Regions from separate parts of the Homo sapiens genome. Here region 1 is linked to region 2. The links come from fine-mapping of genetic effects on gene expression. Tissue or cell type: lung. Region 2 holds a variant in brackets; the other region holds the start of a gene. All regions are shown on one strand. Distances are from middle to middle.

Evidence for each region. PIP is the estimated chance that this variant, and not a neighbour inherited with it, causes the effect. A credible set is the group of variants that fine-mapping cannot tell apart.
Region 1: it holds the start of MYBPHL, and the variant in region 2 is the best candidate, but not a certain one, in a credible set for the expression of MYBPHL in lung (TOPMed, PIP 0.55).

Annotation. Positions count from the first base shown.
Region 1 is chr1:109,303,870-109,309,093 of GRCh38, reverse strand. MYBPHL (myosin binding protein H like) reads left to right here and starts at 2,083. Exons shown (of 9, transcript NM_001010985.3): 1 at 2,083-2,247. The coding sequence starts at 2,103. RefSeq lists enhancers at 1,087-1,825, 1,826-2,565.
Region 2 is chr1:109,450,923-109,456,146 of GRCh38, reverse strand. No RefSeq gene overlaps it. Among named protein-coding and RNA genes, the nearest start is that of SYPL2, 13 kb to the left of the region's middle. RefSeq lists a silencer at 1,294-1,494. The variant A/G (reference allele first, on the strand shown) is at 3,046.

The DNA of each region.
Region 1 (5,224 bases), 150 kb after region 2:
GTCCCTTTCATTTAAGGACCTTTGGAGAGTTGCAGCCTTCCTCTCTTGCAAAGCATTTAAGAGAGGTTCCTGCCCACCCGTCTGGAACCGTTAGCCATCCTACCCTGCTAGCCTGGGGCAATATTCCATGTAATACTCCAGCACCTTGGTCTGAAGATGACAGGGCAAAGCCCTTGTTCCTGAGGCCCATCTGATGGGCGAGTTCCTACCCCAGGACATTATCTAAGATCGTTGTTTTATTTGAAGGAATTCTATCTAACATGGTATTCCAAGATTTCCTGCGCCAGAGTCACTAGGTTGGTTTTTTTAGGTGCAGATTTCTGGATAGCACCCCAGACCTATTGAATTAGACTTTCTGATGGGCAAACCTTAGGAACCTGCATCTTAAAGTTGATTCTTTACACCTTCGCTCCAACAAAGGGCTAAGACTCAGCCTGGGCCAATTTCCTCACCAAAAGATGGGTTACGTGTTGTGTAAAAGGGGGTGTATTTGGGGTCTCCTGGCTAGGAGACTGTCCACACTTACGGGGCCTTGGCTGGGTCAAGCAGGAAAAATAGTTCAGAAAGACCTTCAAGCTAGTTCTGATATGGCAAAAACCCAGTCTTCTGCCAACCAAATCAACCCCATAGGCCATCCAAGGCCCCAATAAACAGATTGTCCTGGGCCTTAGCTCCTATACCAGTTACAAAGAGGCTGAGCTTCTGTCACCCCAAGATAACACAGGCTCCTGGGATCTTACCAATTACCCCAAAATTGAAGGCAAAAATGAGTAAGAAGTCAGTCCATTTGTTCAACTGCACCCATTTTTTTTCCATGAAAAAAATACAGGGGTGAGTAGGGGGCTGTGGGAACCCTATACTTTCCACTCAGCTTTGCCGTGACTCTCAAACTGCTCTAAAATTAAAGCATTTTAAAATGCAGAGGGATGCTGGCTTCTGGAGATAAGAAGGTAGGAGTATGATAGGTGGCAGTGTCCATGGCATGTACAACACGTATAGAAAGATGGTTTGCTAAGTCTGGAAATCATGTAGGACCTGTAGTATGTGACTAGCACCTGCTGTGAGCTGGCCACTTTCCTATAGATTGTATCATTTTATCCTCAACACAATCATGGCATCATCCCTTGTTTCATAGACTGGGACTTGAGACTCCGAGTCGGCCATTTGCCCAGAGTCCCAGCTGGTGAGTGAGTGGTACAGCCAGAAGTCACACGCAGGTCTCTGAGCTCGCCTCCCTCCACCACTGCTGCCTCTCCCTTTATTTGTACTTCATCTAATAGGCAAGGCAGCCATTGACAGCTCTCAAAGGGGGAAGTGCTGGCCTGACCTAAAAATAGCTTACATTTATCAAGCACTTAGTCGGCTACACTCTGCTAAGCACTTTACAGAGATTACCTCTTTAATCCTCACAACGACCCTATGGTTATAATTATCTCCATTTTACAGATGAGGAAACAGACTGAAGAGAGACTGTGAGGTGTTGTGAGTCACACAGCTAGTTGGTGACAGAGCCCCAAGTGGCACCTGGGCAGCCAGTGCGAGTGCAGTCTCCACCTACCACTGCGCTGTGCCCGCTGCCCCCGGGGAGCGGGGGAGGATGGGACAGGCCCTGTAAAGGTCGAGTTGATAAGACTTTACAATTCATTGAATGTGGGAGCAGAGGGAGAAAGAGCAGTTCAGGCGTTGCTGTGAGTCAGCTAATCCTGGGCCCCTTCTTTGGGACCTGAATGCCCCACGGGATGAACTGGAGGTCAGGAGCAGAGATGTCACTCAACCCTCCCTACAGAAATTAGAGGTCCCTTTTGGATGGTGTGTTCAAGCTCTCCCTCCCTGGTGCTGTGGGGGGTGTCATCTCTCTCCCGAGATAACAGGGACACCTCAGTCCTCCTGGGGCTATTCTGGGCTGCTGTCTGATCCTCCTCTCTCCCCCAACCCCTACTTCAGCCTTTCTGCTGGGCGTAGCTGAGTGGGGAGGGCCAGCCCAGTTACGTAACCCTGTGGCTGGGACCCGGGAGGCCAGCCTGGGAGCAGGTGCTCAGCCCCTCCCTCATCACCAGCAGTGAAAATCTAGAGCTGGAGCTCAGCCTCTGGGAAGGCCCAGCATGGAGGCAGCCACAGCTCCGGAGGTGGCCGCAGGATCCAAGCTGAAGGTGAAAGAAGCCAGCCCAGCGGATGCTGAACCACCCCAGGCTTCACCTGGACAGGGGGCTGGCAGCCCCACTCCCCAGCTCCTGCCCCCTATAGAAGGTGACCCATGGCAGGTGGGGAGGGTGGGGAGGCCGGGTGGTGGGAGTTGGGGAAGACATCGCCACCTTCCTGAACGGCGCCTCAGGTTTTCTGCAGAGCTAAAGACTCTATAGGATTGGTGATTAGGCTGGAGATCATTCGTGAGAGCCCCCATCCCCTGTCCTTGATGGAGTCTAACTTGCTGCTCAAATGTCCCTGCTAAGTTTTTGTGTTTTAGCTGAGAAGTCAGTGATGGTGTTGGTGGCACTTTACAGTGACTAAAAATGATCTGTTTATATTTTTACCTTTTAAAAAATTGTCATAGGGACTGGGAAGACCTGATATACTAATGGCCAGTCAGGAAGGGACTGAGGGGTAAGAGATAGTGACTGTCTGCTGAAGGAACAGGGAAATAAAATGCTATGGCAATGGGGAGGCTAAGAGTGGGGCAGCACAGTGACACTCGGCCTCCTGCTGGGCAGTACCACGGGGTCAGGACCTCCTCCAATCCCCCACTGCTCCCATAGGAGATCCTGACCCCTCAGAGTCTGAGCTCCACGGAAGTGGAGCTCTCCTGGGAGAAGCATTCAATTTCCCCTTCACGATGGTCTCTGTGTGCCTCTCAGCAAAGAGGCGTTCCCAAGTGAGGAATTCCAACCCCGAGCTTCCTGCCGCCCATCCCTGAATGCCCTGGCTGAGGCCTCTGTAGCTAACCACTTCGTGGCGCTCACCTGAAAGTCTTAAGAGGATGAAAAGACCACAATCAAGAAACACGTGGACTCCTAGGGCAGGAAGAGGCAGGGGAAAAGATATACTAGACTTGGAGGCAAAGCTCTAGGCTCAATTCCTAGTGCCGCCTCTAACAGCCCTGTGACCTTGGACAAGTCACTGGACTGCTCAGTTTCCATTTTCACTCTGTAAAATGGTGATTAATAACATCTACCTATCAGGGTAGTTGAAAGGATTGCTGAGATGATCCAGGGTGCCTTGGAAGAGGCCAAACTAAGATGTAAATAAATGATCAAATATTTCCAAGTGAGAGGTGAAGGCTGCGTTCTACCTCCATAGGGTTGTGCAGCAGACTCTGTCTGCCTCTTATCCTCATGGGAGAGGCCAGGTTTCCAGAAACTATTTGAATGTCAAGGGCAGAGAGCTGGCCAAGTTTGTCCCGTTGAAGATGAAGGGAGCAAAAGTTAGTGTAAATATATTAAGCTGGGGTGATGGAGGCAGAAAACCAGTTTCTTCCCTTAAAAGGCCCAGAGAATAAGTGACAGGCAGCAGGAGAATGAGAGCCAGGACTGCTGACGCCTCAGCTCTCTCTACTGGTCTTCCCAAAAGCACAAGGGAGAGTGCTCATCTCCCCCATGCTTCTCCCCTCTGGCTGCAGCCAGCTCCTGACAGCCCCCAGTCACGGGCCCGCAAATGCAGCCCAAAGCCTCTCGTGTGCAGCAGCTCTGTACACTGCAGGCCTCAGGGCCACTAGCACCCAGTGGCTCAACCCAGTGGTATCCCAGAAGTCACTGGCAATAAGAACACCTTTGAATACTTTGCAAAATATATGTGCATCTGTTAACTACTTGGAACAAAGAAGTCATGAGTTCAAATCTTAGCTCTGTTCTGTGGCCCTAGGCAAGTCAATCCACTCCCATTTTCTCATCTGTAAATTGAGGAGTTGAACCAAATCAGGGTCTTAACCTTTTGGTGGATATGGACCCCTAGGAAAATCTAATGCCAGCTGTGGACTCTTGCCCCTGGAAAAATACACAAAAAAGTTCAGAGAGCCAACAGAGCCCCAAACCCCCACCAAAGATCCTTCAGGGTGCAATGCATGGGCCTGGACTAGATGACCCCTAAGCCCCCTGAGAGCTCCAAAGCCTTTCTTCCTCCTAACTCCTCTTCCTTACAGAGAGCTCTGGGACTGAGTATCACAGGAAGCATGTGAAAACATGGGAACTAGAGCAGGCATCAGAAATAGAAATTAATTTGCAAGATCAAAACCAACTGCAAATGGCCAACAATGAGCTTTTAGTTTGGCAAGCCTGCTACATGGCTAAATAAGCAGGAGTAGGTGGCCAGCATTGGTAAACAGTTCTATGTCTGTCCTCAGCACTACACTGAGTACTGTGTCCTGGAGACAAAGCTTGGCAGGGGCCAGAGAAGAGCTTCCAAAACAGGGAGAGGCTGGGGAACAAGCTGCATCCCTCCCATGGACAATGTGACACTCGGCCTCCTGCTGGGCAGTACCACGGGGTCAGGACCTCCTCCAATCCCCCACTGCTCCCATAGGAGATCCTGACCCCTCAGAGTCTGAGCTCCACGGAAGTGGAGCTCTCCTGGAAGAAGCATTCAATTTCCCCTTCACGATGGTCTCTGTGTGCCTCTCAGCAAAGAGGCGTTCCCTGGGACCCTGAGGTGGAGGAGAAAGAGCCCATCTGCTGACTTCAGCATCATCGCTCCAACTGACTCTGTGTTCTCTTTCAATCTGAACTGTTCTGTGTCTTCCAGGCATGGGAAACTGAATCTCATGCCTAGGAGTGACCTTTCTTCCCTCCTTCCTTCCGTCCTTCCTTTCCTCCTCCTTCCTTCCACAAATATTTAGGTTGTGCCTATGATGTGCCAGGCGCTCTTCTAGGTGCCAGAATTACAGAAATGAACAAAATAGGTAAAAATAACTGCCCTCATGGAAGTTAGATTCTAGTGGAGGGAGCTAGACAATAAATAAACAAGTAAAGTATCTAATATGTCAGATGGTGAGAAATGCTGTGCCAAAACTAATGCAGGGACGGGGATAGAACGTGCTTCGGGTAGGAAGCATGCAGGCTTCCTGCTTCAAATGGAATATTCAGTGAGGGTCTCACTAATAAGGTGACATTTGAGCAGCAACTTAAAGGATGTGAGAAAGCAATGCATGCAGATATTTGGGGGAATATTTTCCACACAGAGAGAACAACTGCAAGGACCCTGAGGCAGGAGTGTGCTTTATGGGTTGGGGCCATTG
Region 2 (5,224 bases):
TTTTATCCATGGATGGATGTTGAATTTCATCAAATGCTTTTTCTATATCAATTGCTAAGAGTTGCCATTACAACATGTAATTGAGACTACTGAAAATAGATTTACATGCAAGGTGTGTAAGGAAGATAAAATGTGTTTTTGGTAAAAGATTATAAGAAGGCATGGGAATGTAAATTTTTGCCTAGTTTAGAGAGGTAAAGGATTGTTTTAAATTAGATAAGATTAAAAAACTAGATAAGATAAAGCTAAAGGCTTAAACAAGTGGTGGAAAGTTTGTAAAAATTAATCTTTCAAAAGAAATCGTGTGTGTGAACATATTGACTAACTTCAAAAAGGTATTATAGGGTTTTTCCACAAATTGAGCATTGGAATAAAAGCACAAGATTTTCTTAAGGCATTGATCTACTCTTTAACAAAATTTATAAAGAGTTATGAAAGTCTTATAAGAATCTCACCTCATGGTCAAACTGGTTAAGATTGGATAGAATTATCTATAAGGTTTCATTAAAAAAATTGGGGTTGACATTAATAATAGACTAATGCAAAGGTGAAATTTAGCTTTCTCTCCTTTGAACAGGATTTTTATGTAGTATTAAGGACAGATTGTTTGGAAAACTAAATCTTCCCTCTTAATGAGTAAAGGTTTTTGCCTTGTTTAAACTTTTTGAGTCATCATTTTGGCTAAATAAATGACTTATGGTAATCCGGAATTCTATTTCATAATATCAGGTGTTTTAAACCTTTAACATATTTGACAGCCTTCCCCAGATCAAACTTCAGTTTCAAGGTTGTCTTTTCCAACCCTAACTTTTGGGTGCCACAGAGGGCCCCTGGGGCATCCAAAAGAGTTAGGTAAACAGGGTTATTTGACATGTTTATTTATGTAGCATTGCCAAAATAATGTTTAATTCTCTTCAGGTTATATTTTAGTGAATAATGTTAACATATGTTCCAGAATTGCAAGGGATTTCTAAAATTCTAATGTCTGAGTATGTGCTAGCAATCATAATTAAGGTTACTATGTTAAGTTATTGTCAACCACAGAAATAACCAAATTTCTTTGTCAATTGTGTTTTTGATCCTAACTACCCTGAGGACATTTTGTCATTCACAGACAATTGTTGTCTTGCTTTGATTCTTTTCAAAAGATGGTTTATAATCAGCTATAGGACTTTGACAGGTGGTCTGAAATACAGGTTTCTGATAACTTTGGAGATTGCAACATTGGAATAGAGGAAAACATACAGGACTCATGAAGAGCCAAAATGTTCATGAATATCAAGCAGAATAAGGGTTCACTGAATTGACTGAACTAACAGAAAACTGAAGTAATCTTTTTATAACTTTTTGCTTAAGACATTGCTGATCCTTGTTTTGTTTTTCAGAATCAAGGAAACTTTTATTTTGAGACATTTACAGCCTTTAATAATTGAGTAAATTATACTCCTGTGAACAAAATTTGAAGCATATTTGTTTCTCCCTGCCTGGTTTCTCTATAATTTGGAAACTATTTGTGAGTATTCTTAACTTACAGCAATATAGTAATTAATTTGCGTCAGTGCAATAAGAAACATTTTCTTTTGCAACAGGACACAATTGGAGAAACTAGTTGTTTCACCAAGGCTTTGACTGGAATGATGTGCTTTCCTTTAGGGAATCAAGCTTGACTTGCAGAGCCAATAAAACCCCCCTGGGAAAACTGGTCACATGCTTTCTCTACACTGTCCCTGTACAGGGTTCCTAACCTGTGTTGAGTAAAGAAGGTCACTTTCTAACAGGCACAGGAGTCCCATGTTATCTTGAGATCTCAAGAAGAGAGGAATTTACCCAACTCATAGGTATATGAGGGTATAAACCCATGGCTGGACTTGGCTTTAAAAGGTCTTATCTGAGCTTCCTTGTGGAACAGAGTTCCATCAAAGCCAAGTTTAAAAGCCTATGTGGGCCAGGCATGGTGGCTCACGCCTGTAATCCCAGCACTTTGGGAGGCTGAGGCAGGTGGATCACCTGAGATTAGGAGTTTGAGACCACCCTGGCCAACATGGTGAAACCCCATCTCTACTAAAAATACAAAAATTAGCTGGGCGTGGTGGCAGGCGCCTGTAATCCCAGATACTTGGGAGGCTGAGGCAGGAGAATCACTTGAACCCAGGAAGCGGAGGTTGCAGTGAGCCAAGATTGCGCCACTGCACTCCAGCCTGGTGACGGAGCGAGACTCTGCCTCAAAAAAAAAAATTTTTTTTTAAAAAAAAGCCTATGTGAAAAATAATTATTCTTGCTATACTTTATGCAAATAATCAATATAAGTATAGATAATAATCAGTATAAGAGACAAGTATAAGACTAAAGTTTATTTTGCAAACAACTCAGTCCTATCATGATTTGTCTTTAACAAAAATAAGGACTGGAGAAAGAAAAATTATGTTTCAAACTTATCATACACTTGCCATTAAATTCTAATCTCATTAGTTGTTTTTAAGTTTTTGCCCACATTTTAGACTAATCCTGCTTGTTCCTGTGAACCAACCAGTGATCTCCCACTGCAGCTCAGAAGAAAGAGAAGGGATGGGTAATGTAAAAATCTGGATCAATATTCTAATTCTGGGCAATTCTCCTGCAAATCCTGCCAGGTGATAGAAGTAAATGGGGTGCTCATAACCTGGAGGTTTCTTTGTTTGGGAAAATCAGAACAAGGGAGCTAACCAAAGCCAACATGCACCCAAATCTTAGCAGGCATAACTATGGCCACCAGCTATCTGAGTGTATTGGCAGCCCTGGGATTTTTGAGCTGTCCTTACCCCCTTGTTTCATTTGATACATGTCTTCTAATAAACCAAATTGTTTATTCTTGCCTAGAGGCCATCAAACTCCAAATGATCATGTAACCGGAGACAATTGCTTGGACAATTGCTCCCTTTTACTGGGGACCCTTAGACCTCTGAGGGAGATCTGACTGCCGTTTTCGCAAAACAGCACCCCCTGTCAGCAGGAAGCAGTTAAGATTGGTCTTCATCCGTATTCTTTTTTTTTTTTTTTTTTTGAGAC[A/G]GAGTCTCGCTCTGTCGCCCAGGCTGGAGTGCAGTGGCTCGATCTCGGCTCACTGCAAGCTCCACCTCCCGGGTTCATGCCATTCTCCTGCCTCAGCCTCCCGAGTAGCTGGGACTACAGGCCCCCGCCACCAAGCCCGGCTTTTTTTTTGTATTTTTTAGTAGAGATGGGGTTTCACCGTGTTAGCCAGGATGGTCTTGTCCTGACCTTGTGATCTGCCCGCCTCAGCCTCCCGATGTGCTGGGATTACAGGTATGAGCCACCACGCCCGGCCTTGGACTTCATCCCTATTCTAATGGCGATGATATCTAATGGCCCCTCTTCAGAGGGGCGAAATGATAGTGACAGGAGGCAGCCAAATGCCTAGGCAAATTGGGGCAGGTCCCCAGTACAACCCCACCTCCAAGCCAAAGGCAGTTGAAAGCCTGGAAGCCAGGCTACAAGTTCAATCCTCCAACCGGATTGAGAACTTTTCTTCCCATTTGGTGTGCTTTCCTCTGATTGGTCCCCACTCTTCACCTATTTTACATATACCTACCCTTTCCTAATTGGTTTTTTACATTGTTATACCTACTTTAGAGTGGTGTCTTCACTTTAACCTTTTTTGCATACTCACAAACCAATCAGCATGCACTCCCCATTCTAAGTTCATAAAAGGCCCCAGACCCAGCCACACAGGGGACTTCCCACCTTCAGGTAGGGGAACCATCCCACTGTGTCCCCTCTCCACTGAGAGTTCTTGCTTAATAAATTCTACTCCACTCACTCTCTGGTGTCCGTGTGCCTAATTCTTCCTGGTTGTGAGGCAAGAACTCCGACTTAGCTGAGCTAAGGAGCAGGAAGACTGCTACACTTTCTTATTTAGACTTTTAGTATGGCAAATTAAATTGTTTTTTTTTTTTTTTGAGATGGCATTTCACGCTTGTTGCCCAGGCTGCAGTGCAATGGCACAATCTCAGCTCACTGCAACCTCCGCCTCCTGGTTCAATCGATTCTCCTGCCTCAGACTCCCAAGTAGTTGGCATTACAAGCATGCGCCATCACACCCAGCTAATTTTTTTGTATTTAGTAGAGATGGGGTTTCACCATGTTGGTCAGACTGATCTTGAATCCTGATCTCAGGTGATCCACCCACCCCGGCCTCCCAAAGTGCTGGGATTACAGGCATGAGCCACCACGCCTGGCCTAAATGGATTTTTTTAAAGAAAAAAATTACGTGTATAATTAAATTAATATATTTTATTTTGAGAGCAGTGTTAAGTTCACATCAAAATTGGGTAGAAAGTACAGAGAGTATACCTCCTCCTCCCCTGCCCAGCATCTCCCATATCAATGTCCCACACCAATGTAATATATTTATTTGTTACAATCGATGAACCAACAGTGACACATCATTATCAACCAAAGTTCATACTTTACATTAGTGTTTACAGCATTTTTTTTTTTTTTTGAGACAGGGTCTTGCTTTGTCACTCAGGCTGGAGTACAGTGGCACAATCTCAGCTCACTACAGCCTTGACCTCCTGGGCCAAAGCAACCCTCCCACCTCAGCCTCCTAAGTAGCTGGGACTGAGCACCATCACACTCGGCTAATATTTTAATTTTTTGGAGAGACAAGGTCTCACTAATATTGCTCAGGCTGGTTTTGTACTCATGGGCTCAAGCAATCCTCCTGCCTCAGTCCCCCAAAGTGCTGGAATTATAGGCATGAGCCACTGTGCCCAGCCAGAGTTTACTCTTTGTGTTGTATATTCTGTATTTTGACAAATGCATAATAAATGATATGTGTCCACCCTTACAGTATCACACAGAAGAGTTTCACTACCCTAAAGATCTTCTGTGTTCTACCTATTCATCCCTCCCTTCCCCAATTCCCTGGCAACTTACAATCTTTTTACTGCCTCCATAGTTTTGCTTTATTCAGAATGCCATAAAGTGGGAATCATACACTAGGCAGCCTTTTCAGATTTGCTTCTTTCACTTAATAATATACCTTTAATGTTGCTCTGTGTCTTTTTATAGCTTGATAGTTCATTTATTTTTAGTGCTGAATAATATCCCATTGTCTGGATGTACCACAGTTTATTTGTCCATTCATCTGCTGTAGGACATCTTGGTTGCTTCTAAATTTTGGCAATTATGAATAAAGCTGCTATAAACATCCATGTGCAGGTTTTGT